2 linked regions of the Homo sapiens genome follow. The protein of the gene in region 1 interacts with the protein of each later gene in a pairwise test. Each region holds a gene or a part of one and is shown on either strand. Other genes may lie near its edges. The genes, in order: SLC39A13 and F2RL1.

What was found.
Region 2: the proteins of SLC39A13 (region 1) and F2RL1 interact in a two-hybrid assay, tested with the Homo sapiens proteins (one large-scale study listed by BioGRID and IntAct).

What each region holds. Positions count from the first base shown.
Region 1 is NC_000011.10:47,407,049-47,411,443, forward strand, and holds the start of SLC39A13 (zinc transporter ZIP13 isoform a precursor), read left to right. Parts: upstream 1-1,541; 5' UTR 1,542-1,614; intron 1,615-1,903; exon of another isoform or gene 1,904-2,234; intron 2,235-2,536; exon of another isoform or gene 2,537-2,578; coding exon of another isoform or gene 2,579-2,615; intron 2,616-3,017; exon of another isoform or gene 3,018-3,038; coding exon of another isoform or gene 3,039-3,046; coding exon 3,047-3,347; intron 3,348-4,395. UniProt on the Homo sapiens protein: Functions as a zinc transporter transporting Zn(2+) from the Golgi apparatus to the cytosol and thus influences the zinc level at least in areas of the cytosol. May regulate beige adipocyte differentiation.
Region 2 is NC_000005.10:76,832,182-76,835,882, forward strand, and holds the end of F2RL1 (proteinase-activated receptor 2 preproprotein), read left to right. Parts: intron 1-508; coding exon 509-1,620; 3' UTR 1,621-3,134; downstream 3,135-3,701. UniProt on the Homo sapiens protein: Receptor for trypsin and trypsin-like enzymes coupled to G proteins.

The sequences.
Region 1 (4,395 bases):
GTGGCCAGGAGCGCTCAGCCTCCAGAGGCAGGAATGCTGACTGTGTTATTGTGAAATCATTTGCATATTGTGAAGTGCTTTGCATAAGATGGAGCGCTTTTGCATACAGGGAGGGGGGCATTTTAGAAGTCCTAGGGCAGGATCCCTGAGTAGCTTTTCTTTGCCAAGAAACTAACCCAGGGATTCCATTTTGGAACTCAGGGAGGGAACAGAACGTCCTGGCAGTTGTATGGGCCCGGTGGGGTGAGATGGACAGAAAGCTTCAGAAGACAAGCTGGGCCACCAGGGAGAAGTTGGCGGTCTAAGGAAGGCCAACAGTGCAACATGAAGTGGGACAGGCACCAGAGGCAGCCCTGAGAGCTGAGTGTGCTCTCAAGAGCCCCAGCAGAGGGGAAAGTGACAGAGTAAATGGTTGGAGCTGCCATGGGAGGCTGATGAGGGTCAGAGACTTAAGAGACCTGTACTCAGTCGCTATCTCTGCCCAAGTGAGTACCCACATGCCCCTTCCTGAATCTTCTCCTGTACTGGCTGATTTCCAGAGAAGAATACAAACTCGAAACGCCAAGCCAGACTCCCACTGCTGTTCAGGACCTAGACGTGAGAAGTGGTATCACATACTCTGGCTTCAGGACACCCAGGTTTGAATCCTGGCTCTGCCATCTGTGCCACTGTGTGACCCTGGGCTAACAGTACCCACCACAATGGGATAATATGAGGATTCAGTGAGATAGTGCGAGTAAAGTGAATAGCACATAGTAGGTGGTCAGTAAATTGCGGTTATAAGAACTGCTATCCAGTGTTTGCTGCCTTAGTCTAACCAAAGAGGTCAGGTCTAGCTTCCTCCAGGTGAGGGAAGCACAGAGCCCTCGCCTCCCAGGTTTGGAGTTCCCATCAGCAGGGTCCAGCCACCATGCATTGGACCCCAAAGGGTTACAAGCCCTGGAGACAGTGGCCTGAGGTTCCCAGTGAAAAACCAAAGCATAAAAATAATTCGATGAGTAAGAATAAAATTCCCTCTTCTGAGGTTCCCGGGGCCAGGCCCCTCCCTGCGGCAGGCACTTCCCCTTTCCCTTGCTCATGGAGGAGCCAGGCCGGGCTGACTCAGAGCAGGAGCGCACAGTAGTCCTCCCAGCCCGACCTGGGCGGCGTGGTCTGGCGGCCGGGCGCGCCCCCGTGCGGCCACGGGCAGACTGCGGCCCTGGACGGGAAGCGGCGGCCAGATCCGCAAGCCCCGCAGCCTGGTCGATCGCGGTCCCCGCAGAGCCGCCGCTTCCGTCCCTGCCCAGCCTGGCTGAGCGCGGTGCGTGTGGCTCTCTCACTTCCGACCGACCCTCCCCTCCGGCCCGCAGCCCTGCCCAAACGGAAGTGCGCCCTCTACCCGGGTCCCCCACCGCCGCGAGGCGGAAGCGCCCTCCCGCCGCCACTCCCCCCGACCCCGCGGCACGCGGCGCCTCGGGTTCCGGACAGGCCCCTTGTGACGTGGCCGCGCGCCGGGGGCGGCCCCGGGCCGGGGGCCGGGCGGCCGGGCGGCCGGGCGGGGCAGAGCCTGGGCGGGGCGCGGCACCGCAGCTGGATGGCTGGGGCCGCCCGGATCGCCGCCGCCGCCGCCGCACGGTGAGTGCCAGCAGGACCCTCGGGGCCCGCGCCCCGGGCGTGATGGACCCGGCCGATCCCTCGCCCCGTCCGACTGGTCCTCATCAGACCTGGGCCGGCTCCCAGGACCCGGGAGTCAGGCTCGCCCGCTTCGGCCTCCTCTCCCCCATCGCTCCGCGCCCCACGCCCCATCCCTCCCTCGCTGTCCTCTCCGCGTCCCACCCGCCTCTCTCTAGCTCTCTCACTCTCTACTTTCCTCTCCCCTTGGACTCTCCGTGTATTCCCTCCCGCTAGCCTGTGGTCCCCTCACCTCTGCGTGACCGCCTCGTCCTGGCCCAGTCTTGCCTGTGGTCCCCAGTGGAGCCCCGCTGGCTTCATCAGTGCCCCTGATTAGTTAAGGCCTGGAGGTCCTAGACATGGGCATCTCTGCCACCACCCAGAGGCAGCTGCTTTCTTCCCCTCCCATCTCCATCAGAAGGTGAGGAAACTGAGGCAGGGACATCACCAGCTCAAGGTCACAGCCAGCCTGAGGCAGAGCAGACCACATTTAAACCTCATGCCCGAGTTTCCAGATGGAACTTCTCGCTTGGTTGACTCACGTCCACATCCTGTGATCGGCCGGCTGGGCACATTCCTGCTGCAGGGAGCCCCAGGCCTTCCCTGGCACAGGCAGGGCCTCTGCGCCTCCTCATGCCGGGTACATCCACCTGCACTTTCAGGCTTATCTCGTCCTCACAGCTGAGGCAGGTGATATTGATCCCTGTCCTGCAGATGAGGGCACTGAGGCTCAGAGGGGGGGCTTCAGAGATTTGCCCAGAGTTAGACAGCTCAAAGTGCAGCATAGAATTCACCGTGGGGGCTCTAAAGCCTGCGCTATACAAGAGAGAGGCATCCCCTGGCTAAAGGCTCCTTCCTCATCAGCCCCATCTCCTGTTGCCCTCAGTGCCCTGGGGACATTGGTCTCATGTCCTAGGAAGAAGCGTGGATGGTCTTGCCCTGGCTCATCTGCTCAGTTTCCCCACGTATGTCTCTCTGAATCCACCCCATCCCCTTAGAAGGGGTGCCTCAGTCTCTGGGGTGTCGCGGGCGGCAGGGCCTCCCCTGGCAGCCAGAGACACCCAGCTGGGCCGGGCCGTGCCGCCGGTGGCTGAGGAGAGCCAGCCAGCGCCTCACCCTGTCATTAGGGAAAGTTTAGCCTCAGGCGGAGGTGCTGACACAGTCTGGAGCTGCTCAGAAGGAAAAAATACGCAGTGCTCAGGAGTAGGGTGTGGAGACACAGGGCCCCATTGCTGTGCACCCAGCATTTGGATGCTCAGACGCTCTGGCAAGGACAGCAGGAGGGTGGATGCCAGGGTCCCTTGCGGGGAGGAGGGAGGCGCCACGTTTCCTAAGCAGGTGTGCGGCCAAGGCTGTAGCTCATATAGGTGGCCTTTTGTGTTTTTCAGTACGTGGCATGCCTGGATGTCCCTGCCCTGGCTGTGGCATGGCGGGCCCAAGGCTCCTCTTCCTCACTGCCCTTGCCCTGGAGCTCTTGGAAAGGGCTGGGGGTTCCCAGCCGGCCCTCCGGAGCCGGGGGACTGCGACGGCCTGTCGCCTGGACAACAAGGAAAGCGAGTCCTGGGGGGCTCTGCTGAGCGGAGAGCGGCTGGACACCTGGATCTGCTCCCTCCTGGGTTCCCTCATGGTGGGGCTCAGTGGGGTCTTCCCGTTGCTTGTCATTCCCCTAGAGATGGGGACCATGCTGCGCTCAGAAGGTAGGTGACTCTCCGGTGGCGCCCAGGGCTGGCCAGGGTGTGGGAAGCATGCTGCTGCTCTTCTTAGGAGACCCCAGGTCACAGAGTGTCTGAGATGGAGGGAGAGGATAGAATAGAACTTCTCCCCTTGGTCCTGTAGGAGCTATCTAGCCAGGGGCGGCTGGCTCTGGCTTCCCCAGGAAGCTATGAGCACCTGGTAGCAGGGCCTGCCCCTGGGGAGGGGGTCTAGGAGATGGGGATGTGGGCACGGGTGGGAGCTTTGTCCTGACTACCCTTTTGTACCATGAGCATGTACTGCCCGTTCACAAATAACATGTTGTAACAAAACACGCAGGAGAGCTCTAGGGAGCTGCTAAGAATGCACGTGCCTATCCCCCACCTAAGAGGGGTGGACCAAGGCCCTGGGAATCTGTTAGAAACGAGCATCCCAGGGGCTGGTGCTGCCAGCTGGATGCTCAGGAACCATTCACTTACCAGATGGTTACCCAGCAGCTCTGTGCCAGGCACTGGGCTGAGGGCGGTGCCACAGCTGTGAATAGAGCCCTGCTTGGGCCATGGTCAGGCCTGTGCTCAACCCTCAGAGCAGCCCTGCGGGGTCAGTGCAGGGAGCACCTGGATTATTAGTTCCATTTTACAAGTGGGGATGCACAGGCACAGAGAGGTTCTTTGACCAGTCCAAGGTCACCCAGCCAGGAAATAGCAGTTTCCCCTGGGATCCCACCCCAAACCCAGCTGCCTCTGTCCTCTAGGCCTCAGTTTCTCTATCAAGCCAAAGGGTTGGACATGGCTTTCAGGCAGGCGACTTCCAACCCTGGATGCTGCAAGTCCCCAAATCTCTGCCACTTTTCTGAGAGTGACAGCAGCTGAGAAGAGAAAAATTCCCACGTAATGAGCACTTGCTGTACATATTGTCATTTAATTCCCATAAGAGCCCATAAAAGGCTCACAGCTGTAATCTCAGCAGTTTGGGAGGCTGAGGTGGGCAGATCACCTGAGGTCAGGAGTTCGAGACCAGCCTGGCCAACATGATGAAACCCCGTCTCTACCA
Region 2 (3,701 bases), on another chromosome or scaffold:
AAGAAAAAAACCCATAAAACCAAACTAAACCAGACAATAGAAATCCCAATAATCTCATTACACAAAGAAAAGCCCCTATAAGCATTTTGTGTAATCCTCTAATAGTACATTTCTGTTTTCATCTAAAGTACTTTCATTTGAGGCTGGGCTCAGTGGCTCACACTTGTATCTCACCACTTTGGGAGGCTGAGGCAGGAGAATCTTAAGGCCAGGAGTTTGAGAACAGCCTGGGCAACATAGTGAGATCCTATCTCTACAAAAAGTAAAAAATTAGCTGGGTGTGATGGTGTGTGCCTGTGGCCTGGCTGTTTAGGAGGATTGCTTGAGCCCAAAAGTTTGAGGCTGCGGTGCATTATGATCGCTCCACTACGCTCCAGCCTGGGTGACAGCGAGACCCTGTCTCATAAATTAAAAAATGAATAAATGAATGTACTTTCATTTGAACAAACCAGTGTTACTGCTGAAACATTTATTTCTGTAATGACCCTTGTCTTCCTTTCTTGTACAGGAACCAGTAGATCCTCTAAAGGAAGAAGCCTTATTGGTAAGGTTGATGGCACATCCCACGTCACTGGAAAAGGAGTTACAGTTGAAACAGTCTTTTCTGTGGATGAGTTTTCTGCATCTGTCCTCACTGGAAAACTGACCACTGTCTTCCTTCCAATTGTCTACACAATTGTGTTTGTGGTGGGTTTGCCAAGTAACGGCATGGCCCTGTGGGTCTTTCTTTTCCGAACTAAGAAGAAGCACCCTGCTGTGATTTACATGGCCAATCTGGCCTTGGCTGACCTCCTCTCTGTCATCTGGTTCCCCTTGAAGATTGCCTATCACATACATGGCAACAACTGGATTTATGGGGAAGCTCTTTGTAATGTGCTTATTGGCTTTTTCTATGGCAACATGTACTGTTCCATTCTCTTCATGACCTGCCTCAGTGTGCAGAGGTATTGGGTCATCGTGAACCCCATGGGGCACTCCAGGAAGAAGGCAAACATTGCCATTGGCATCTCCCTGGCAATATGGCTGCTGATTCTGCTGGTCACCATTCCTTTGTATGTCGTGAAGCAGACCATCTTCATTCCTGCCCTGAACATCACGACCTGTCATGATGTTTTGCCTGAGCAGCTCTTGGTGGGAGACATGTTCAATTACTTCCTCTCTCTGGCCATTGGGGTCTTTCTGTTCCCAGCCTTCCTCACAGCCTCTGCCTATGTGCTGATGATCAGAATGCTGCGATCTTCTGCCATGGATGAAAACTCAGAGAAGAAAAGGAAGAGGGCCATCAAACTCATTGTCACTGTCCTGGCCATGTACCTGATCTGCTTCACTCCTAGTAACCTTCTGCTTGTGGTGCATTATTTTCTGATTAAGAGCCAGGGCCAGAGCCATGTCTATGCCCTGTACATTGTAGCCCTCTGCCTCTCTACCCTTAACAGCTGCATCGACCCCTTTGTCTATTACTTTGTTTCACATGATTTCAGGGATCATGCAAAGAACGCTCTCCTTTGCCGAAGTGTCCGCACTGTAAAGCAGATGCAAGTATCCCTCACCTCAAAGAAACACTCCAGGAAATCCAGCTCTTACTCTTCAAGTTCAACCACTGTTAAGACCTCCTATTGAGTTTTCCAGGTCCTCAGATGGGAATTGCACAGTAGGATGTGGAACCTGTTTAATGTTATGAGGACGTGTCTGTTATTTCCTAATCAAAAAGGTCTCACCACATACCATGTGGATGCAGCACCTCTCAGGATTGCTAGGAGCTCCCCTGTTTGCATGAGAAAAGTAGTCCCCCAAATTAACATCAGTGTCTGTTTCAGAATCTCTCTACTCAGATGACCCCAGAAACTGAACCAACAGAAGCAGACTTTTCAGAAGATGGTGAAGACAGAAACCCAGTAACTTGCAAAAAGTAGACTTGGTGTGAAGACTCACTTCTCAGCTGAAATTATATATATACACATATATATATTTTACATCTGGGATCATGATAGACTTGTTAGGGCTTCAAGGCCCTCAGAGATGATCAGTCCAACTGAACGACCTTACAAATGAGGAAACCAAGATAAATGAGCTGCCAGAATCAGGTTTCCAATCAACAGCAGTGAGTTGGGATTGGACAGTAGAATTTCAATGTCCAGTGAGTGAGGTTCTTGTACCACTTCATCAAAATCATGGATCTTGGCTGGGTGCGGTGCCTCATGCCTGTAATCCTAGCACTTTGGGAGGCTGAGGCAGGCAATCACTTGAGGTCAGGAGTTCGAGACCAGCCTGGCCATCATGGCGAAACCTCATCTCTACTAAAAATACAAAAGTTAACCAGGTGTGTGGTGCACGTTTGTAATCCCAGTTACTCAGGAGGCTGAGGCACAAGAATTGAGTATCACTTTAACTCAGGAGGCAGAGGTTGCAGTGAGCCGAGATTGCACCACTGCACTCCAGCTTGGGTGATAAAATAAAATAAAATAGTCGTGAATCTTGTTCAAAATGCAGATTCCTCAGATTCAATAATGAGAGCTCAGACTGGGAACAGGGCCCAGGAATCTGTGTGGTACAAACCTGCATGGTGTTTATGCACACAGAGATTTGAGAACCATTGTTCTGAATGCTGCTTCCATTTGACAAAGTGCCGTGATAATTTTTGAAAAGAGAAGCAAACAATGGTGTCTCTTTTATGTTCAGCTTATAATGAAATCTGTTTGTTGACTTATTAGGACTTTGAATTATTTCTTTATTAACCCTCTGAGTTTTTGTATGTATTATTATTAAAGAAAAATGCAATCAGGATTTTAAACATGTAAATACAAATTTTGTATAACTTTTGATGACTTCAGTGAAATTTTCAGGTAGTCTGAGTAATAGATTGTTTTGCCACTTAGAATAGCATTTGCCACTTAGTATTTTAAAAAATAATTGTTGGAGTATTTATTGTCAGTTTTGTTCACTTGTTATCTAATACAAAATTATAAAGCCTTCAGAGGGTTTGGACCACATCTCTTTGGAAAATAGTTTGCAACATATTTAAGAGATACTTGATGCCAAAATGACTTTATACAACGATTGTATTTGTGACTTTTAAAAATAATTATTTTATTGTGTAATTGATTTATAAATAACAAAATTTTTTTTACAACTTATTTCTGAGTTGTGCGTTTGTTTTGAGGGAAGGAGTGAGAGAAGGCAGGCAACAGCTTCACCCCTCTAAAAGTGGACACTCACACCAAACTCTGTGACAACGGTTTTTCATTTAAAAATGTTTCAGAGGCCGGGCACAGTGGCACACGTGTGTAATCCCAGCACTTTGGGAGGCCAAGGTGGGTGGATCACCCGAGGTCAGGAGTTCAAGACCAGCCTGGCCAACATGGCAAGAGCCTGTCTCTATTAAAAATACGAAAATTAGCTGGGCGTGGTGGCAGACGCCTGTAATCCCAGCTACTCGGGAGGCTGAGGCAGGAGAATCGCGTGAACCCGGGAGGTGGAGGTTACGGTGAGCCGAGATTGCGCCATTGCACTCCAGCCTGGGCAACAGGAGCGAAACTCCGTCTCAAAAAAAAAAAAAAAGTTTTAGAATTCTTTCTATACCTGCATCTGTAGGTTGACCGCTTTTCAAGGATACAGGCTATTTAACATTTTGGGTATATTGTGATGTATTTAATTAATTCCCTACCAACGGCTCCTTAGGTTGTCATCCCCCCACCCTTCTT